Regions from separate parts of the Homo sapiens genome. Here region 1 is linked to region 2. Evidence: fine-mapped expression QTL. A gene starts in region 2. The other region holds a variant in brackets. All regions are shown on one strand. Distances are from middle to middle. Region 1 overlaps C3AR1 (complement C3a receptor 1). Region 2 holds the start of NECAP1 (NECAP endocytosis associated 1).

Region 1 (5,383 bases), 24 kb before region 2:
GGAAATAAGAGAGAAAGTGGAGGAGAGGGACAAAAGGAGTAATTATTTGGTATAGATCCACCCATCCCAACCTTTCTCTCCTCAGTCCCTGCTCCTCATGTTTCTGGTTTGGTGAGTCCTTTGTGCCACCACCCATAATGCTTTGCATTGCTGCATCCTGGGAAGGGGGTATATGGTCTCACAAGTTGTTGTCATTGTTTTTTTGCATGCTTTCTTAATAAAAAAAAAAAAAGAATGTTTACAGTTTTATCTTACTGGTAGTGGTCTCAAGTTTCTTTTGGCCAGGGAAGGAAAAGAGAAACGTGAAAGAATTTAGTCTCAGTTCGTCTTTATTCCTCTTCCACCTTCCACCACTGGGTTGAATTAGTTGACCCTGACACGTTTTGTGACCTTGGTGGGAAAGAAGAATCAAAGGCACGTCCTTAACGTGCCTCTTTTCAAATGCTATCAAGTATGATGACATATTGCGGGAGAGTCAGTCACCCCTTGTAGGTTGGTATATGGAGTAGGCCCACCTTGCTTGCATTTTAGGATAGTTTAAAGATTTAAGATATTATACTTTGGGGCTGGGCGTGGTGGCTCATGCCTATAATCCCAGCAGTTTGGGAGGCCGAGGCAGGCAGATCACCTGAGGTCAGGAGTTCGAGCTCAGCCTGACCAACATGGTAAAACCCCGTCTCTACTAAAAACACAAAATTAGCCGGGCGTGGTGGTGCATGCCTGTTATCCCAGCTACTCTGGAGGCTGAGGCAGGAGAATCGTTTGAACCTGGAAGGCGGAGGTTATAGTAAGCCAAGACTGCACTGTTGCACTCCAGCCTGGGTGACAAGAACGAAACTCTCTCTCAAAAAGAAAAGATATTGGTTGGGCGCGGTGGGTCACACCTGTAATCCCAGCACTTTGGGAGGCCGAGGTGGGCAGATCACAAGGTCAGGAGTTCGAGACCAGCCTGGCCAACATGGTGAAACCTCATCTCTACTATAAATACAAAAATTAGCCGGGTGTGGTGGCAGGCGCCTGTAATCCCAGCTACTTGAGAGGCTGAGGCAGAAGAATTGCTTGAACCCGAGAGGTGGAGGTTGCAGTGAGCTGAGATCGTGCCAAGTGTGCCACTGTGCTCTAGCCTGGGCTACAGAGTGATACTTCATCTCAAAAAAAAAAAGAAAAGATATTATACTTTGGACAGGAGCTGTGTTCCCATCTGGGACTTCCTGGAGAAGATACAGTACAAAATAGTTACAGGTACTCACCAGGTTTTCATCAGAAATGAGGGAGCTCTAATTGTAGGAATTTCTTCAGAATACATTTCCAAAGCAAATGGAAAAGAAAAGGAGTCCAGAAATGCTGATTACTCGTTGTACATTAAATCTTTATAACTGCGTCAAGATTATTCACCTTGATATCCTATACACTAACCCCAGGAGTTTAGGTCTTATTCCCAGGGTCTTATGGGATGTGCTGGGGTTTCTGGAAGCCTGGCTAATTGCTATTATAGCAAGTCTATAGTCACTCACTAGGAGACTTATTTGCTGCATATTTAGAGATGTGATATATTCTGAATGTGAAACAAAAGGATTCATAAATCTCTGAGCCTCGCAAGGACCCATGAGAAAAAAAGCATTTATTCATATCAAATATATAAGCAAATTAATATATAAGCTGGAAAGGTAGCACTTCAAATCTTATGTCAGACATTCTTCACAACTGAAAGAATTCCTAGTGATTTGTAATTTTTCTGCATATACTTTATAAAAAATCTGTAGTCCAGACCCTCACCTCAGCCATTGAACAGATAGTGTCTTGCAGGTCTAAAACACATGTCATTTTCTGTTTTTAGACTACATCATTGTATTTGGTTTAGATGAGGCCACGTTGTGATACAAACAAGCCAGAAATTTCAGACGTTTGACACAAACATTTATATATACAGAAAAATGAGAAGGTGGTAGGGAGTTAGGTAATTTTGTTTTAAATGAAAAAGGGACAGAAGGAAAGCTATATAAATGGTTGGAGTGTATAGACAAAGTAGAAGAAAAATATGTGGTCATGAATGAATTAAAATATGGTTATTAATGAATGTTGGGATGCTGGATAAACAAATTAAAAATATGGGGTGCTTGGATAAACATCTTCATCTTTCAAAACAAGAAGTCGTTTTATCATGCCTCCAGAAAAGAGCAGCATAAGCACATGATTTAGAAACATCATGATAATTATCAAAGGAAACATCTAAAATTGTGCAAGGATTATCTCTGGGAAATGAGAGTGGGAGGAGGGAACTTTTGGGCACAGTGAGGTAGGAGACCTCATATTTCATTATATACCTTATTAAATTATTTTAAAACTATGTGCATGTATTACTTTGGCAAAGAAAAGGATTTAAAAAACCCAGAAGATATATTTGGTAATTTTGGCATGTAAGTTGCCTGTCGTCATGTTTTAAAATGTGATGGCAAGCCTGGTAGGGTACTCAGTTGCAGAGAGTAGAAGAATTGCTGCTCCATCCTCCACCCTCTTTCTCCTTCCACTTGAAATACTTTCTTAGAAAGTATTCATTTGGAGCAAGAGGAAGGGAGTAACTAGAATCTTACGAAATTAGAGGTTGTTTGAGGCACAAAGTCTGATGTGGAAGATTTGGAGGCTGGGGAGTAATAAGGAAATTAAGGAGCTTAGGAAGAGGAGTGGAAAATAGGTGCCCAACCGGTAGGCAGTTAGAAGAAACAGAACTCCCCAAACCACAGCTTTCATAACATTTCATGAGTCAGTTTTCAC[A/G]CAATAGATGCTTATTTAGTTGTAATAGTGGAAACTCTATGTAATAGTGGAAATTTCTATATCCTGTACCCAGGGGTGTTCCCAGGGACAGGCATCATTGCATAACCCTATGCTCCAGACTCAGTCTCATGGCTTCTTGTCTTCACAGGCATTTTCTTTTTGCACTTTCTTTTCGTTTAAAACCATCAACACCACACGACAACAAAGCATTAGGATATATGATCATCTTTCACTCACGTAGGAGAACAAGAAATGGTTTTAAATGGAATCTGGAAGACTTAGACAATGCTAAGGAAAAATTTAATGATGGAAATATCGACAAATATTCAACATCATTTAAAAACAAAGTAGCTTCTCTTATTTCACATAGCTTAGTTTGGGATAGAAATAGAACTAATGTTTACAATGATTCTTACATTTAGCATTAATCAGAAACGAGGGTTTGTTAAGTGCCCTTGCTGGGTCCCAACCCCCAGAGATTCCGATTCAGCAAGTCTGGGATGCGGCTTGAGAATTTGCATTTCTAACAAGTTTCTAGGTGATGCTGATGTCAATAGTCTGTGTACCGTTTGAGAACCGCTGGATTGATTCTTTGACAGTTTTTGAAGTCCGCTGCTCACCATATCACTTCATCCTCTTATAAACTTTCACTATGTGATTGCCTAAGAGCCCCTGCTTGTTGGCTGCTCCACATTTTCACACAGTTGTACTATTTCTTTCTGAAATGACATTGTTTGAGGGACAGTGGGTGGAACGTGTGAGCTCCTCACTGAAGGCTGCCTCCAGAATTCCCTGAATGGACTGCCTTGCTTTCTTCCTAAAATCTTTCCCCAAGAGGGCATAAAGGAAGGGATTAAAGCAACTATTGGCAGATGCTAGAGCAATGCATACATGATCCCAGGACATCAGAGTTTTCCCCAAGGGAGTTTCTGGGTCAGTAAGCAATGACAGGACTCCAAAAATGTGGTATGGAGTCCAGCAGACAAGAAAGACAGCCACCACCACCACGGCCACTCGAAAGGTTTTGCTCTGAGACTTGGCGAAGCGGCCCCTTTGCATTCGGAAGACAATGAAGCTGTAACAGGCTATCATGATAACAGAGGGCAGCAGGAAACCCACCACTAGCCTAGTGATCGTTATTGCCACGAGGGGTGTTGGCACTTGATCGTCATCTGTGAATTGGCCTAAATTGTAATAATCCTGGAAACCTTGTGGTAGCTCAGACTCGTAGAAGGAATTGCTAGAAGCGCTAGGGAACAGCTTTAAATGAGTAGAGAGAAAAGCATCAGAGTTATCCAGTGGGCTGGTTTCGTGATCTTCAATAGGAAACCCACTGGGGATTTTAGGTGAGACCACATCAGCAGGTTTAAATACATTAGAATACAGATTTTGACTTGTTAACCTAGCAGAACCCCTAGGGAGTGAATCTGCAGAAGGTCTTTGAAATGTTTGAGGTTGGAAGACAGTGGGGACTGTCCAAGGATGATCATTTGTTTGGAAAGAGGAAGGATCTAACCTATCATTCATTTCTCCAGGCGGCTGAACAATGTTTTCAAGAGACCTGTTTTCTAGTGGATCTCCATAAAAGTCTGGATAATCTAATGAGCTGGAGAGACCAAATTTGTAGCCACATCTATTATGGTTGTCTGTAGTGAAGATTTCCCGGTACACGAACACAGGAATGCACATCACAAAAGCCACCACCCAGATACATCCACAGATAGAGCAGGCCATCCCTACATTGCGATGATTCTGACACCAGATTGGCTTGAATACCACAAGACAGCGATCCAGGCTAATGGCAGTAAGCAGGAAGACACTGGCAAACATGTTGAGGACAATGATGGAGGGGATGAGCTTGCATAGGAACCTGCCGTAGGGCCACTGTCCCTGGAGAGCCAAGTGAGCCAGCGAGAAGGGCAAGGAGAGGCAGCAGAGGAGGTCCGCCAAGGTGAGGTGGAGGAACCAAATTGTGTTCACTGTCCGCTGCATCTTCAGGCCAGCCACCCACAGCACCAGCCCATTGCCTGGCAATCCCAGTAAAAAAGTAAGGCTGAGAATGACCATGGAGAGAATTACTGGGGGCTCATTCCATGGCTGTGAGAGTAGGTCAGTTGAATTGGTCTCAGCAGAGAAAGACGCCATTGCTAAACTTCTGCAAAAAGATGAAAAAAATGTTAAAACAAACAGTATCTTTTTGAAAATGCATACATATTCTTAGGATTCTAATCTTCCCACATAAAGATGTGGGATCATGAAACCAGAAGGTCCTCACGCTGTTTTAGTTTGCCTTCCTTCACCTCACACGGGACCACATAAAAGCATTCTCTGATAGACAATTATATTTATTTATTAATTTATTAATTATTTTTCAGACAGAGTCTTCCTCTGTCGCGCAGGCTGGAGTGCAGTGGATTGATTTCAGCTCACTGTAAGCTCCGCCTCCCGAGTTCAAGCGATTCTCCTGCCTCAGCCTCCAGAGTAGCTGGGATTACAGGCGTGCACCACCACGCCTGGCTAATTTTTGTATTTTTAGTAGAGACGGGGTTTTGCCATGTTGGCCAGGCTGGTCTTGAACTCCTGACCTCGGGTGATCTGCCTGCCTTGGCCT
Region 2 (5,383 bases):
TTGAGATGAAGCAAGAGAAGGGAAATTTAAATTTATATAAAGAAAAAACATGGTTAAGTAAGGGTTTTTTTTTTTTTTTTTTTTTAGGTGAAAGGACTTGAATATACTTACATGGTGAGGGAAAGGGGTGAATGGAAAATGAGTTTTAAGATACAGGAAAGAAAGGAGATAACTGATTAACCAGGTCCCTGAGGAGATTGGTCCCTGAGGAGAATCCAGGGCACACACAAGTGGATAGGAGAAAGAATAGATGAAGATGCAGATAGGAGTATGAATAGGGTGTCATTAAGTTGAGAGAGTTCACACAAACTTTATTTTCTTAGGGAAGTAGTAAGATGTTTTACCTGTCAAGAAAGAAAAAGAGAAGACTTAGAGTTGAAGGCCTGAAAGGGCAGCAAAATTTGGAACAACCATTAAAGGGAATGAAAATAAAAACTAGCAATGGCAAATCTGGGTGTTAAGGGCAAAGCTGAGACTCAAACCCATAAACTTTTAGGGACACCAATCTTTATAATTGTGTGATTTGCTTTTGGAGAATGATGGAGGGAGATGGTTGGAATATATAAGACTGGAGTCTTTTGGGTTGGCTGTGATGGAAAGACAAAGAGGAAAGGAAACTTAAGGATGCTGGCAAGAGAACTGTTGAAACAAGGAGATGGGAGGAATAAAGAGAAGGCTAACAATGTGCAGAACATGAAGAAGAACAGGTGAGGTAGAAAAGAGAGGTAAAGATAGTTAGAATTTATGTCAAGAGATTGTATGGCTAGGAAGAGTTAACTATATGGGCTTTGAAATCTCTAAAAGATTTGGGAGAAGAGGAAGAGTATAAACTAGTAAGAAGGTGAACCAGAAGCCAGAATCCTCCAAAAATGATTGCCAGTGATAACACAGAACAGAGAAAAAAAAAGAGGTACAATGTGGTGTAGTCATATGACCTAGGCTTCAGATGAGATCATAGGGTCAGAAATAAGGAACAACAAGTAATAAACCACTTTTCTGTCTTTATTTTTCTTTTAACATGTATTCAGTGACAATAATAGCTATATAAATCTTAAACAACAGAGAAATATATGGAGGAGAAAATAAGTTTCTTTCCCCCACTTAGCCTTATATCCTTTGAAAGCCTTCTCAATGCATTTACATGCATGCATATATAATTTTGGGGTGTTTCGACAAAAGTTGATAATGCTGTATGTTTTTTGCAGTTGGCTTTAAAAAATCTTGGATCTCTTTCAATGGCTAACCCTTTAGTTCAAAACATCTCATAGTAATAGATATACCATTAACCATTTCCCATTGATAGATGGTCATTTTGTTTCCATTTTTTTCACTATTACAAACAATGCTGTAGTATTATTGTACATACTTTTTTGTGCATATAAGGATTTCTCTACAATATTTATTAGTGAAACTGCTAAATTGAAGATTACGTCCAATTAATATTTTGATAAATTCTGTTAATTTCCCTTTTAAAAATGCCGTGCCAATTTACATTCCTGCCAACAGTGTATGAGATTAGACTGTTCCTCACGTCCTCGCCAGGGATAAATGTGGTAATTCTTTTTGAAATTTAAGATATCACTTTCCAAGGTGGAGCAGACAAATTAGAGGCAGGTTTGCTTTTTTTTTTTTTCTCATTAAACTTTTTTAATGGGTCTCAAAATTCTGTGACAAATTTTTGGATGTTTCCATTAAAAAGTACTGATTTAAAAAACTAATAACTTAAAACTGCCACACGCAAAAAAGAAAACCAGTGGTCCACAAAACATTCTCCTTTCCTTCTGAAGAAGAAAACCAGTGGTCCACAAAACATTCTCCTTTCCTTCTGAAGGTTTTACGATGCATTGTTTTCATTAACCAGTCTTTTACTACTGAACTTAAATGGCCAGTTGAAACAAACAGTTCTGAGACCGTTCTTCCACCACTGATTAAGAGTGGGGTGGCAGGTATTAGGGATGATATTCATCTAGCCTTCTGAGCTTTCTGGGCAGACTTGGTGACCTTGCCAGCTCCAGCAGCGGTGAAGACTGCTGCTGTTGTAATGAGGCAGGCTTGAGTTTCTGTCTCAGTTTTGCCACTTGCTATCTGTACTGTCAGGGTGTTGTGGTTAAGTTTACCTTTGGGGCGCAGAAAAAGCATATTTATGGTGAGAGTTCGGTAGCATTTATCATTATAATAGAACTGGGAGCTAATATAGGCCATTAGATAGTTCATTATGCTTCCGATTTTATCAGGAATTGGGTTGATCCCACGTATAGTCTATTTAACAGGATCAAATTTTCCAAAAAGATAATCGGAATACACGCCGAAAGTGTGGCAAAACATTTTAACAGGTGTCGTCCTGAAAAATCGGAGATAAAGAGTGTAAGGCACTAAATCAAGTTGGGTGTTTTCAGCGTTTAGACTCTGGAGAGTTGAAATCCACGGTGTCTATGACCAGATCATACATCATTCTCTGCAGGTACCTCGTCTGGGACTACCGGCTGGAGGTTGCCTCTTTTCTGCCAGGAGACTACAGTTAGGAAGTGACTCCTGTAAGAAAATCCGTCACGATTCAATATGGTCCTCGTCCTCGTAGGACACTCCAGGCACCTGCCTAGAGTAAGATGGCGCTTTTCGTAAGCACCTCTCCAGGACAGAGATTTCCATAACGAGAGTCACGCACTTGCAGGCCATCTTTGCCATTATCCAAGACGGTGAGCCGTGCAGCCTCATCGTTTCCAGGTTTCAATATGGCTCCCCGCGTCACCGAAAAGGTTAATCTCAGAAACTAACTTGAACTCGCGCGGAAGTGACGCAACAGAAGTTGTCGCGCTTTGCATCTCCGCCTCCCGTGCTCCGCCTCCGGTCTTACGTTTCGCCCCCGGCAGCGCCGACAGCGGACCCAAGATGGCGACCGAGTTGGAGTACGAGTCTGTGCTGTGTGTGAAGCCAGACGTCAGCGTCTACCGGATTCCGCCCCGGGCCTCCAACCGCGGTTACAGGTACTAACCCCGAGGCGCTGCCGCACACGCGTACTCTGTCGCAGATGACAGCTTCCTTCTCAGCTAGCACGCTGTCCGTCCCTGCCACTACTACCTCTGTATTGTCACCTTGCTAGCCTCCCTACCTGGGTTGTCATCTCCCTGACCACCTGCTCCATCTCCACTCTGGACTGTCATCACCATATTTCTGCCGTTTTTTTTTTTGTTTTGTTTTTTATTAAATTACCACTCTGCGTTATTCCACTCTGCCTCTCCCGTAATCCCCTGGGGCACCCATCTGCTCCCCATCATGCACTTTCAGTCGTGCTTGCTCCATTGCCAGTCCCCTTTCATTCGCTCTTCCCTGCGTCCTTCAGCTTATCATCCTCATCCTTTCTCTCTCTCTCTCTCTCACACACACACACACACACACACACACACACACACACACACACCTTTCCAGTTCCCCATGCACATTTATGGGTAATCGTGTTGCTTGCCACTCTGGATTATCTGATTTATTTTTTGTACTGTTGTCAATTTCGTCACCAACTGTCATCATCCACCATTCGGTTTTTCCTTCAGCAGTTTTACCAGTGAGCAAAGGTTATGATCATAAGCTTTACAACGGTTGTTCATTCTGTTTCTTCTCATTGTATTTTCTTGATGATTATATAGTATTTTCTGTCTTCCTTCCCTACCTCCCTTCTTAACCTCTCCTACACCTTTTCCCTCCAAAGTTGAGGCAGCATTTTTCTCTGTTGGGCCTAACTACCTACCTTGTAATCCAATGACTGTGAGGTTCTGAGGATGCTATAGGACATTATGTAGTTGAAAGACAGTTCACTGGGCTTCATGTTAAACCATATGAGTGTGAGCCCTTTCCAAGCCTCAATTTTCTCATCTGTAAAATAGAAAAAAAAACCTGTTAGTGATGATACCTGCGCTCTTATAATGTGCTTAACAAGGGTTTTTGGGAGAGTAAAATTAAATCATATAATGGATGTGAAAGAATGTAGGAAATGCAATAAAGCAGTTACAAATACTATTTGTTTGTTCTTTTTTTTTTTTTTTTTTTTTTTTTTGAGATGTAGTCTCACTTTGTTGCCCAGGCCGGAGCGCAATGGCTCAATCTCAGCTCACTGCAACCTCCGCCTCCTGGGTTCAAGCGATTCTCCTGCTTCAGCTTCCTGAATAGTTGGGATTACACGCATGCACCACCACACCTGGCTAATTTTTGTATTTTGAGTAGAGATGGGGTTTCACCAAGTTGGCCAGGCTGGTCTTGAACTCCTGACCTTGTGATCTGCCCACCTTGGCCTCCCATAGTACTGGGATTACAGGCGTGACACCACGCCCAGCCGTCGTTTTTTTTTTTTTTTTTTTTTGTTAGAGAGGCAGGGTCTCGTTCTATCATCCAGGCTGGAGTGCAAGTGGTGCAATCACAGCTCACGGCAGCTGTGTACTCCTGGGCACAAGGGATCCTCCTACCTCAGCCTCCCAAGTTGCTAGGGCTACAGGCATTGCCTCACAATGCCTGGCTAATTTTTAAATTTTTTTGTGTAGACAGGATCTTGATATATTTCCCAGGCTGGTCTCGAACTCCTGGCCTTAAGTGATTCTCCTGCCACAGCCTCCCAAAGTGTTGAAATTACAGGTGTGGGCCACTGCACCTGGCCAAGATACTGTTCTTATTCTTCTCTCTGACCCACATCATCATTGTGATTTTTCCTCCTGGCATTTATCATTACCTTGGCTGAAAAGTTACCCTCTCCTTATGTCTGTTATTTTGCCCCTTACTGGCGTTTTATTCATCATGAATCAATATTTTTATGCTTGCTGACCTGTGCGCTGGGCCCTGTGGGTTGCACCTTTGGCAAAGAGGTAGCAGTTCTGTTTTTAATAAGCTTTTAGTTGGACCCCAAACTGACCCTAAGTAGAAATCAACATGCTTTTAGATGGTAGTTACAGGTACTATATGAGTCACTTAAACATCACCTTCTTTGGGAGGCCCTATGTGACCCTTCCATTCTGGTTTAGATATGCACCCTGTGTGCTTCCATAGCACCTTTTTCTTTTTCTTTTTTACTTTAAGTTCTGGGATACATGTGCAGAATGTGCAGGTTTGTTACATAGGTATGCATGTGCCATGGTGGTTTGCTGCACCTATCAACCTGTCATCCTCGCCCCTCCCCCGAGAGGCCCCAGTGTGTGTTGTTCCCCTCCCTGTGCCCATGCGTTCTCACTGTTCAACTCCCACTTGTGAGTGAGAACATGTGGTGTTTGGTTTTCTGTTCCTGCATAGCACTTTATTCTTATCTCTATTCCAGGGCTCTTCATTTTGTATTGTAATGGATTACAGTGGATTGTACAATGGATTGTTTAGTCTCCTTTTTTCTCCAGGCTAGACTGTGAACAAC

The links. PIP is the estimated chance that this variant, and not a neighbour inherited with it, causes the effect.
Region 1: its variant is fine-mapped to the expression of NECAP1 in whole blood (TOPMed, PIP above 0.99). The same link has a PIP of 0.9 or more in monocytes, monocytes after LPS, monocytes after Pam3CSK4 and monocytes after R848.

The regions. Positions count from the first base shown.
Region 1 is chr12:8,055,269-8,060,651 of GRCh38, forward strand. It overlaps C3AR1 (complement C3a receptor 1), which reads right to left. Exons shown (of 2, transcript NM_004054.4): 2 at 1,576-4,927. The coding sequence starts at 4,917. The coding sequence ends at 3,469. FOXJ2 (forkhead box J2) reads left to right here. Exons shown (of 11, transcript NM_018416.3): 11 at 1-249. Among named protein-coding and RNA genes, the nearest start is that of C3AR1, 8.4 kb to the right of the region's middle. The variant A/G (reference allele first, on the strand shown) is at 2,773.
Region 2 is chr12:8,079,400-8,084,782 of GRCh38, forward strand. NECAP1 (NECAP endocytosis associated 1) reads left to right here and starts at 2,875. Exons shown (of 8, transcript NM_015509.4): 1 at 2,875-2,984. The coding sequence starts at 2,890. RefSeq lists enhancers at 2,137-3,336, 2,768-2,987, 3,058-3,117.